Regions from separate parts of the Homo sapiens genome. Here all the other regions are reported to be linked to region 2. Evidence: microRNA targets listed by miRTarBase, many of them from high-throughput screens and not tested one by one. Region 2 holds a microRNA gene; each other region holds the end of a gene's coding sequence.
The links. The annotated mature microRNA hsa-miR-6792-3p reads CUCCUCCACAGCCCCUGCUCAU and lies in region 2 at 2,212-2,233, opposite strand. An mRNA with a match to its seed (bases 2 to 7 or 8) in the 3' UTR can be bound and repressed. Matches are read on the target gene's strand: a 7mer-m8 pairs with bases 2 to 8, a 7mer-A1 pairs with bases 2 to 7 and ends in A, and an 8mer does both.

Region 1: miRTarBase lists JAML as a target of hsa-miR-6792-3p. Seed matches in the 3' UTR shown: 8mer at 2,345-2,352 and 8mer at 2,029-2,036.
Region 3: the mRNA of NODAL is a reported target of hsa-miR-6792-3p. Seed matches in the 3' UTR shown: 7mer-A1 at 2,445-2,451.

Annotation. Positions count from the first base shown.
Region 1 is chr11:118,191,797-118,194,972 of GRCh38, forward strand. It overlaps JAML (junction adhesion molecule like), which reads right to left. Exons shown (of 10, transcript NM_001098526.2): 10 at 1,929-2,621. The coding sequence ends at 2,529. Among named protein-coding and RNA genes, the nearest start is that of SCN2B, 17 kb to the left of the region's middle. RefSeq lists an enhancer at 2,468-2,657.
Region 2 is chr19:7,616,537-7,619,712 of GRCh38, reverse strand. MIR6792 (microRNA 6792) reads right to left here and starts at 2,274; the gene lies at 2,208-2,274. It overlaps CAMSAP3 (calmodulin regulated spectrin associated protein family member 3), which reads right to left. Exons shown (of 17, transcript NM_020902.2): 14 at 3,091-3,176; 15 at 2,275-2,387; 16 at 2,052-2,170; 17 at 1,409-1,961. The coding sequence ends at 1,656. XAB2 (XPA binding protein 2) reads left to right here. Exons shown (of 19, transcript NM_020196.3): 19 at 66-188. The coding sequence ends at 127.
Region 3 is chr10:70,430,278-70,433,453 of GRCh38, forward strand. NODAL (nodal growth differentiation factor) reads right to left here. Exons shown (of 3, transcript NM_018055.5): 3 at 1,659-2,811. The coding sequence ends at 2,659. Among named protein-coding and RNA genes, the nearest start is that of NODAL, 9.8 kb to the right of the region's middle.

The sequences.
Region 1 (3,176 bases), not on the chromosome of region 2:
CGGGGCCCTCATGGAGAACCTCTGCTAGGGCAGTGCAGAAGGGAAATGTGAGATCAGAGCCCCCATACAGAGTCCCTACTGGGGCACTGCCTAGTGGAGCTGTGAGAAGAGGGCTACCATCCTCCAGACCCCAGAATGGTAGATCCACCAACAGCTTGCACCGTTCACCTGGAAAAGCTGCAGACACTCACTGCCAGCCCATGAAAACAGCCAGGAAGGAGGCTGTACCCTGCAAAGCCACAGGGCAGAGCTGCCGAAGACCATGGGAACCCACTTCTTGCATCAGTGTGACCTGGATGTGAGACCTGGAGTCAAAGGAGATCATTTTTGAAGCTCTAAATTTTGACTGCCTTGCTGGATTTCAGACTTGCATGGGCCCTGTAACCACTTTGTTTTGGCCAATTTCTCCCATTTGGAATGGCTGTATTTACCCAATACCTTTTACCCCCATTGTATGTTGGAAGTAACCAGCTTGCTTTTGATTTCACAGGCTCATAGGTGGAAGGGACTTGCCTTATTTCAGATGAGACTTTGGACTGTAGACTTTGGGTTAATGCTGAAATGAGTTAAGACTTTTGGGGGCTGTTGGGAAGGCATGATTTGTTTTGAAATGTGAGGACATGAGATTTGGAAGGGCCAGAGGTGGAATGATATGGTTTGGTTCTGTGTACCCACCCAAATATCATCTTAAAGTATTATTATTATTATTATTTTGAGATGGAGTCTCGCTCTGTTGCCCAGTGTGGAGTGCAGTGGTGCAATCTCAGCTCACTGCAAGCTCTGCCTTCCGGGTTCATGCCATTCTCCTGCCTCACCCTCCCGAGTAGCTGGGACTACAGGCGCCCGCCACCATGCCCGGCTAATTTTTTGTATTTTTTTTAGTAGAGATGGGGTTTCACCATAGTCTCGATCTCCTGACCTTGTGATCTGCCTGCCTTGGCCTCCCAAAGTGCTGGGATTACAGGCGAGAGCCACCGCACCCAGCCCATCTTAAATTATACTCCCATAATTCCCACATATTGTGGGAGGGGCCTAGTGGGAGATAATTTGAATCATTGAGGTGGTTTCCCCCATACTGTTCTCATGGTAGTGAATAAGTCTCATGAGATTTGATGGTTTTATCAGGGGTTTCTACTTTTGCATCTTCCTCATTTTCTCTTGCCACCGCCGTATAAGAAGTGCCTTTCACTTCCCGCCATGATTCTGAGACCTCTGCAGCCATGTGGAACTGTAAGTCCAATTAAACCTCTTTTTCTTCCCAGTCTCGGGTATGTCTTTATCAGGAGCATGAAAACAAACTAAATACAGGCAGTATGGTCATTTTCACAATATTGATTCTACCCATGCGTGAGCATGGGATGTGTTTCCATTTGTGCTGTCTATGATTCCTTTCAGCAGTATTTTGTAGTTTTCATTGTAGAGGTCTTTCACCTCCTTGGTTAAGTATATTCCTAAGTATTTTAATTTTTTTTGCAGCTATTATAAAAGAGATTAAGTTATTGATTTGATTCTCAGCTTGGTTGCTATTGGTGTACAGCAAAGCTACTGATTTGTATACATTAATTATGTATCCTGAAACTTTGCTGAATTCATTTACCAGTTCTAGGAGCTTTTTGGATGAGTCTTTAGGGTTTTCAAGGTTTATGATTATGTCATCAGCAAACAGAGACAGTTTGACTTCCTCATTACCAATTTGGATGCCCCCCGCCAAAGGATTTTTAAGACTAACCTTATCAAATCTTACAATAGCAACTAAAAGTATAGGAACCGCACATTTCAGACCAAGAATTAAATCAGTGGCTGTCCACTGTGGCAACCCATGAGTATCAGGAAAGACAAATGCCTAAACTTCACCCAGAAATTTCAAATTAGGAGGCATGTGGTGAGGCCCCGCAAGGAGCCACCAGCAGGAATGAAGAACCACTGAGTTAAATCCCAAAACTGTATTCATACCCTACTTCCAACCCATTCACCCCAAACCTTTCCCAGGACCAAAACCAGCCTCTAGTGTGTTAGCACGGTTTGGCTTTCCTCCAGGAACTTCAGTTTTTCCAAAAGTTTCTAACTGTAAATTCCTCACCAGGACTTTACTTGCCCCCTCAACCGAGGCATAAAAATAGGACGATTTCCACAAACAACACTTATTTAGAAATAATGTGCCAGAGGAATGATTTGGGTTGGTTTTTATCTCTGATTCTTCCCAGTAACTCATCCACTAAGAACCCTGCCCACAGGAGGGTCTGATCCAACGGGGGGTTTGAGGCCACTCAGCTCAGCCTGGTTCCCAGGGCCAGTGTCCCACTCCAGAGGCCAAGTCCATGCTCCCCTCCCCTCAGCAGGCCTGTTCCTCCAGAGCTGTCCAGTCTCTCTGCCAGGCTCCAAATTCTCCATCTTCAGTGTATTGACCAAACAATGAGACAGGAGGACAGCTGGGAGAGCGGGAGTCTGAAATCACTGGTAGAGTGGCCCAGGACACACACAGGAGAGAGTCTCCACCGCTGCTGAGATGAAGGGACTCTCCATTCTTCTCAAAAGGCTTGCTGTGTTTTTGGCATTCCCCCACCTGACTTTTTTTCAAGTGAGTTGTTCCGATCTGACCTCAGAGAAGGCCAAACTGGGTGCTGTGGGGGAAGGGCAGAAAGAAACAAAACATGCTTGTAAGAAGTAGTTCCATAATCATAGCAGCTGCTGTTCATTGAGCTCTTCTCATGAGCCCGGCCCAGTACTGAATTTCATATGCATTATCTCATGTGATCCTTACCACCAGGAGGTAGGTATTATTATTGCCTTTCTAAGGATAAGGAAACTGAGGCTCAGACAGGCCAAGTTACTGCCCAAGACCATCTGGCTGCAACACAGAGTTAGAATTTGGACCCAGGTCTGTCTAACTCCACAGCTTGTGATCTTAACCTCTGTGTGTACAGCCTCAGAAAGGGAAAACAGCAAGGTGCCACTACATTTACATGAATTTCATCAATTCAACAACAAAAAACAAAGGCTCTTTGTTACCCCTGCTCCCTATCAGAGAACACCTTTATAAATGCAGTCTCAAACAAGTGGCCTGCAGTCCCAAATTCACCAACAGCCTTATTTAACTTGGCACATCATATTTTAAAATAACTTGACTGGCCCCTGCCAGCCTTTGAGTTTGCAGCCCAGGCCTCTTCTCTTACTCT
Region 2 (3,176 bases):
ACCAGGGTGGGCCTCGGGGGACAGGCCAACGCCAGGAGGGTGACTGGCTCCCGCCTTCCCCACAGAGGTTCGGCTGGAGCAGCAGAGCGTGCCAGCCGCAGTGTTTGGGAGCCTGAAGGAAGACTGACCCGTCCCTCCCCCATCCCCCCTCCCCACCCCCTCCCCAATACAGCTACGTTTGTACATCATGGTCTGAGCCTCCTTCCTGCTGCCCAGGTGCCCGAGGGAGTACAGCTCAGGAGTGCCTGGCCCTGGGCCGGGATTGGCTGCTGTGGGAGGTGGGGCGGCTGGGCCCCAGGCCAGATACTGCCCGGCCTCACCCCGCAGAGCCAGTTCTGGACTCGAGAGGCCAGTCCCTCCGCTGCCTGGGGCCTTGGAGTGGGTCCTGCCCGGAAACTTCCTTGAGCCTCTGTAGCCTGGGAAGGGCAATCCAGCCCCTGGCTGCCCAGGTCTCGCCAGCCCCTGCCTCTCAGAGCCCTTCTGTGGCCCCAGGCAGCTGCCGCCTCCCTGGGGTGGCACCCACTGTCTGTTCCCCACTAGGGACTGGCCCTTGCCCTCAAGTCTTGGAGTCAGGCAGGCTCTGGCCCAGCTCTGGGAACTGATTAGTAACGCGTTTCTGTGCCTGGACGGGGGCCAGGCGCCAGACCTTGTGCACGGCCCAGGACCAGGGCGTGGTCCTTAGTCCTAAGCCTGGGAAGCCATTAGCGGGCTGTAGGCTATTAAGGGGTTTTAAGTATCAAGGGATATAATCAGATTTGTGCTTCGAACGGGTCACACAGGCTGCTGTGTGGGCAGGAGGCAGCTGGGGACATGGGGAGGCCCAGGCCATTGGCTTGGACTTTGCAGGGAGGTGACAGGGCTGGAGAGAAGCGAGTGAGACAGGAGGGGAGGGCTGAGCTGTGTAGAACTGGGCGGCAGCTGGGAAGCCAGTGCCAGCCTGGGTTGCAGGGCAGGCCTTGCATCTGAGAGAGACACCCAGGCAATGGCAGGGGGCAACTGGATTGTCAAACACAGATCTCAGAGAAACCTGGAATCACTGGCCCAGAGGTAGATGCCAGGCCTGGAAACACCAGGCTGGCCAGGGGAGACAAGATCAAGTTAGAAGTTGGCCCCATGCCAAACGCTGGTTAGGGCCAGTAACAACAGCCACACAGACCAGGAGAATCCAGCAAGCGGGGGTGGCCAAGGCCACAGGAAGGGCCAGTGGGACACCTCGAGCCTGAGAGATCAGTTCAGAGGCAGCTTCGAAACAGCCCTGGCTGGGGGCTGGGAGTGCCCTGGCTGAAGCTGCATTAGGGGATTATGGGGGTTGAAGACAGGAGTTGGTTTGAGAAAGAACAGGAGACTAAAAACACAGCCAGGGAGTGTGGGACCCCGGCCAGCCTCGGAGGGGGGGACAAGGTTCAACTTCTCTTTAAATTATTTTATTCAAGAAGTGGGGGAGGACAGACAAGGGGACTGAGCTGAGCCCTGAGTCCCTGAACCTCCCAGCTCAGCCCCCACAGCAGGACTGGACTCAAAGTCAGAGGGTGGAGACTCCAGCCCCACCCAGACACGGTTGGGGACAGACAGGACCCAGGAATACCGACTGACTGTCCTCCAGGGGATGGCGGCCGCAGCACACAGGGCCCGGCCCGTGGACCGCCCGGGTGGGGCTATTTGGGGGTGCCGCCGCCCTTCTTGGGAGTGGTGGGTTTCTTGCCCTGCCAGAGGTGTCCCTGGATGGTGAAGGCATCGACGCTCATGGACATGGTCTTGGCGGGGATCTGGGTGAAGCGCTTGCGGTCCGAGTTGTACTTGTAGATGCCTTCCACCATGGCGGGCGTGACGGTCCGGGGCCCATACCCTGCCAGCCGCGACAGCTCCTCTGTCTCCCCCGACAGCGTGTAGAGCGCCCGGAACTGGCAGCTCGAGTCGCGAAAGAGGATCAGGAAGTGGTTGGCCTTGCTTTTCTCAATTTCCTGGGCAGGAGTGCTGGAAATGGTCAGCTGGCCAAGTCAGGCCACCCACCCACCCACCAGCCCCCAACTCCCACGTGTGGGCGGGCTCACCTCCAGAATGCGATTCTTCTGCGGTTCGTTCACCTTGCCCGCCAGGCAGCAGTGTGATAGGGCATTGTGGATGATGAACTTGTTGGACTTGGCGCTGGGTTCTTTGTACAGCCGTGGACCTAGAGGGTGAGGCAGTGGGAGGGGGTGGGGGGCAGCAGGAATGAGCAGGGGCTGTGGAGGAGGGTGCCTGTTGCTCCTCACATCACCCAGAGCCCCTGCTTACCTGTGTACTCGGGCACTGACGCTGGGGAGGAGGCATTGCTGCCATTTTCCCAGTCCCGTTCGCGGCTTCCAGGCAGGCGGCTTGGGGACATGAGACCTGACGGGGAGGGAGCCCTGCAGTGGGAGAAGGATGGGATGGAGGTGGGGTCAGGATGGGATGGAGGTGGGGTCAGAGATGGGAAGCTTCCCTATGTGCAGAGGGGCCAAGGAAAATAAGGGCCACGGCTGGGCATCGTGGCTCATGCCTGTAATCCCAGCACTTCGGGAGGCCAAAGCGGGCAGATCACTTGAGGTCGGGAGTTCGAGGCCAGCCTGGCCAACATGGTGAAACACCGTCTCTACAGGCACGGGTAACCCCAGCTACTCAGGAGGCTGAGGCACGAGAATCACTTGCACCCAGGGGGCGGAGGTTGCCGTGAGCCAAGATTGCGCCACTGCACTCCAGCCTGGGCGACACAGCAAGACTCCCTCTCAAAAAAACAAAAAAAAAAAAAAAAAAAAAAAAGGCGGGCCACACACACTGCAGAGGAGGCGGTATACACTGCACACCCTCCCAAGTCCATGCAGTGCCCCGTGCTGTCCTCCTCCCACAGGAACACCTGGCACTCAAGTGCACTGAGGCACATGCTTGAGTCCTGTCTGCCAGGTACAGACTATGCCCCATGCACACGTGCCCACACGCGTCCCTCCATCTCTTCATGGCGTATCCATAAACTCGAGCCATACCGCCCTCTAGGTTCACCCAGATGCCCACACACCTCCCAGGCTCTGGGAAGCCACCCGGCATACGAACCCCGCCTGTGCGGGCTAAACTCACCGAGACGTGGGCCTCTTCACCCCGAGGTTATTGTGGGCCTCGTTGGCCACAGTGGACAGTGACAGGGTGGACTGGGAATAGATTTT
Region 3 (3,176 bases), not on the chromosome of region 2:
ATGGCGAGACCCTGTCTTGACAAAAAACAATCTAAAAAATTAGTTGGGTATGATGGTGCATGCTTGCAGTCCCAGCTACTTGGGAGGCTGAAGTAGGAGGATTGCTTGAGTCCAGGATGGCAAGACTGCAGTGAGCCATGATTGTGCCACTGCACTCCAGTCTGGTTGACAGCAAGATCCTGTATCAAAACAACAGAAAACATCCCAGGTTCAGACAGGACACAATTCTCCAAGGTAGTATTTAAAGTGACTTATAGAGCCTTCAGCAAGCACATGGCCTAGAGCATGGAGCTATTCCCTAGGCTCGGGTAGGTAGGCTTTGCCCCAGTGACTCTGTCCAGGCAACAGAATGACTCTGCTGCTGACGTAGCAAACACTGAGCTTTCAGCAGGGGTCAGCAAAACACAGAGTTTCACTACTTTGTGCACTACTTTTATTTGACATGAGGCAATGCCCTGTCGTCAAGGGTTTGTTCTTGGAGTCAATACAGCTGACTGTAAACACTCCCACAAGCTGTAGCTACAAATAGCTTGACCTTTCGCTCTCTGGCACCAGCCATGTAAGAAAGTCCTGGGGTGGGATGTTCACTTCTAAGAACTAGTTCAGTAGTGTAATTGGGTTCAAATGTTTGGTTCTAAAGGCTAAGGCTTGGATCCCAAGATAGGTGAGCACAAACCTCTAGTTGCTGTTAAGCAGTAAGTGCCCGTAGGGCTCAAGAGACCAGAGCTCAGCTCTTGGCCCTGCCACTCCTAGCTGTGTGGTCAGGCCCTGAGGCCTCCCTGGGGTCTCACTTAGGAATGGGGATCAGACAAGCTGACCTCACAAGGTTGTCCCTGCTCTGCTGTTCTGTATATGGGCAGATGCAGAATCCTGTTGATTCTGAATTGTTGGATCTGGGCAGTCTATTTCTAGTCCAGGCAGTGAACAGCTGGATCAGCTTTGTTGTGGAATCAAGGCACTGAGGTTTCTCAAGCCCAGGCCTGGCTCCAGCAAATCCAGCCCCTTTCTGGGCCATGACTATGGTGTTGACTCAACCAAAGCCTCAGTTGAGTTCGTCTGAGCTCAACAGGGTTCACAAATGATTGGAATCATTTTCTTTAGCATAAGTGGGTAGGCTTCTTGGGAAAGCAGAATGGGGTAGATATACTGTGGGCTCACATTCCCAATAAAGTGGCCCCTTTGCTCCATGAAACTACAAAAAAAGTGCCCCTGCTTTGGCAATGCTCAATGAGATCAAGCTGTTAAGAGCAGAATTGCTTCTTTTGTTTGTTTTATTTAAACAGAGACAGGTTCTCACTATGTTGCCCAGGCTGGTCTTGAACTACTGGACTCAAGTGATCTTCCCATCTCAGCCTCCCAAAGTGCTGGGATTACAGGCATGAGCCACTGCACCCAGCCAGAATTGCTGCCTTTGAGGTCTTTTTACCTGGAAGATAACTGTGGTCAGGGGTTTTTGGGGATAGAGCTGCCTCACTCAGGCTCCTTTTGCTGTGCTTCCCATGTGGAACCTGAAATTAAGTCTGTCTTAGAACCCTGAGTAACAAAAGAGCCGATAAAGGTTAGATTAAGGGCATGTGGCAGGGACTGGGTTTAGCAAGCTTTATAAGCTTTAGAGGGAGGTAGGGATAAGGTAGCTCTTCCTATTCAGTCTACAGCTTAAAGCTCATGGCTCTTCTGAGCCTGACAACAGACATTTAATATGAATGCATTAGGATTCACCAGCGTTCCTTTTACAAGTGGAGACTGGACAGTGAATTGCTCACCTGAGGTCGCACAGCTTCCAGTGGCTGAGCTGTGACCATAGAGCAAGTATCTTGCCACCCAGGGCAAGGCCTTCACCACTGCTGGATAGGAAGCTCAGAGGCCTCATTAATAGCACACATTGAGAGACTGAGGTGGATTGTCACCAACTTTAACAAACTCAGGCTGTGTCTGCCGAAGCAGACTGACGCAGGGATGTCTTCTGTAACCCAACATGGCCGGTCCTCTTGGATGAGTTCCTGCCTCTGCCTTCACAGGCACCAGCTGGCCCAGGAGAACTAGACAATGGCTTTATTGTTGTACAGCTCATTAGCAGAGAACCACTCCAGTGAGCCTCTGGACAAGGCCAGTAGATTGCCACTGGCCAGCCAGAAAGCTGTGGGGCTCCCCCAACCCAGCCTGAGGCAATGAGATTGACGGACTCTTTTTAATCTATACAGTGATCCTTAATCTTTGGGGAGGGGGACAGGTCACACACAGACTACTTTGGAGAATACATGAAAGCTATAGGTGACTTCATCCCACCTCCAAAATACATGCACATATGTCTCAACTTTCACATACAGTTTCGGGGGGTTCACAGGTTTTTAAAAAATCCAGTAAAGAACTCATGCACTTGTGCTTTTCCTTGCCACTGTCTTTTCAGTAAAGAGAACATCCAGCCAGCCCCCTGCACAGGCTTCTTCCTCCCTCTTCCTGACAGCAGCCTCTGTGCTTGGCCAGACTCCACTGAGCCCTTCATTTACAGAGTGGGCAGCCCCTCCTCTTCAGTTCTGGTGGGCAGAGCAACTTTGCCCCTCTCTGTTTCTCCTTACTGGATTAGATGGTTATCATGTCTTCCAGGAGTTTCCCAGCCTTCCAGAGTGCAGGCAAATCCAGTCTCCCTCCAGGATGTCATCAGAGGCACCCACATTCTTCCACGATCATGTCTTTATGGTGATCTAGGAGCACTCTGCCATTATCCACATACAGCATGCTCAGCGGCTTGGTCTTCACTGGGGCACAACAAGTGGAAGGGACTCGGTGGGGCTGGTAACGTTTCAGCAGACTCTGTAAAGGAAAGGAAGGGTGTGTCAATTCACATCCTGATGGGCAGGTCAGAATAGTATTTCTGGGTAAAGAGTAAAAAAGTTACGGAGTTAAAGTCAGTTCCTGAGTGCAAAAATAGCAGAAAATTATTTTCATAAAGGAATTAGCTTGCCAATATATCATGAACTCTAATGTCTAAACTACCTTTAGCTCTGTGCTTGTTTTGTGAAAACAGCCTTTAAACAGATTCAAAAAATTACATGTATCTGGGTAGAGTAGTAGCTATTTTTTTTTTTAAGTGGTAGCTAATTTTTATGTTCTCCTATTATTCTAGTCTAAAGGGAATACCATTTTTTTTTTCTTTTTTGAGATGGTCTTGCTCTGTT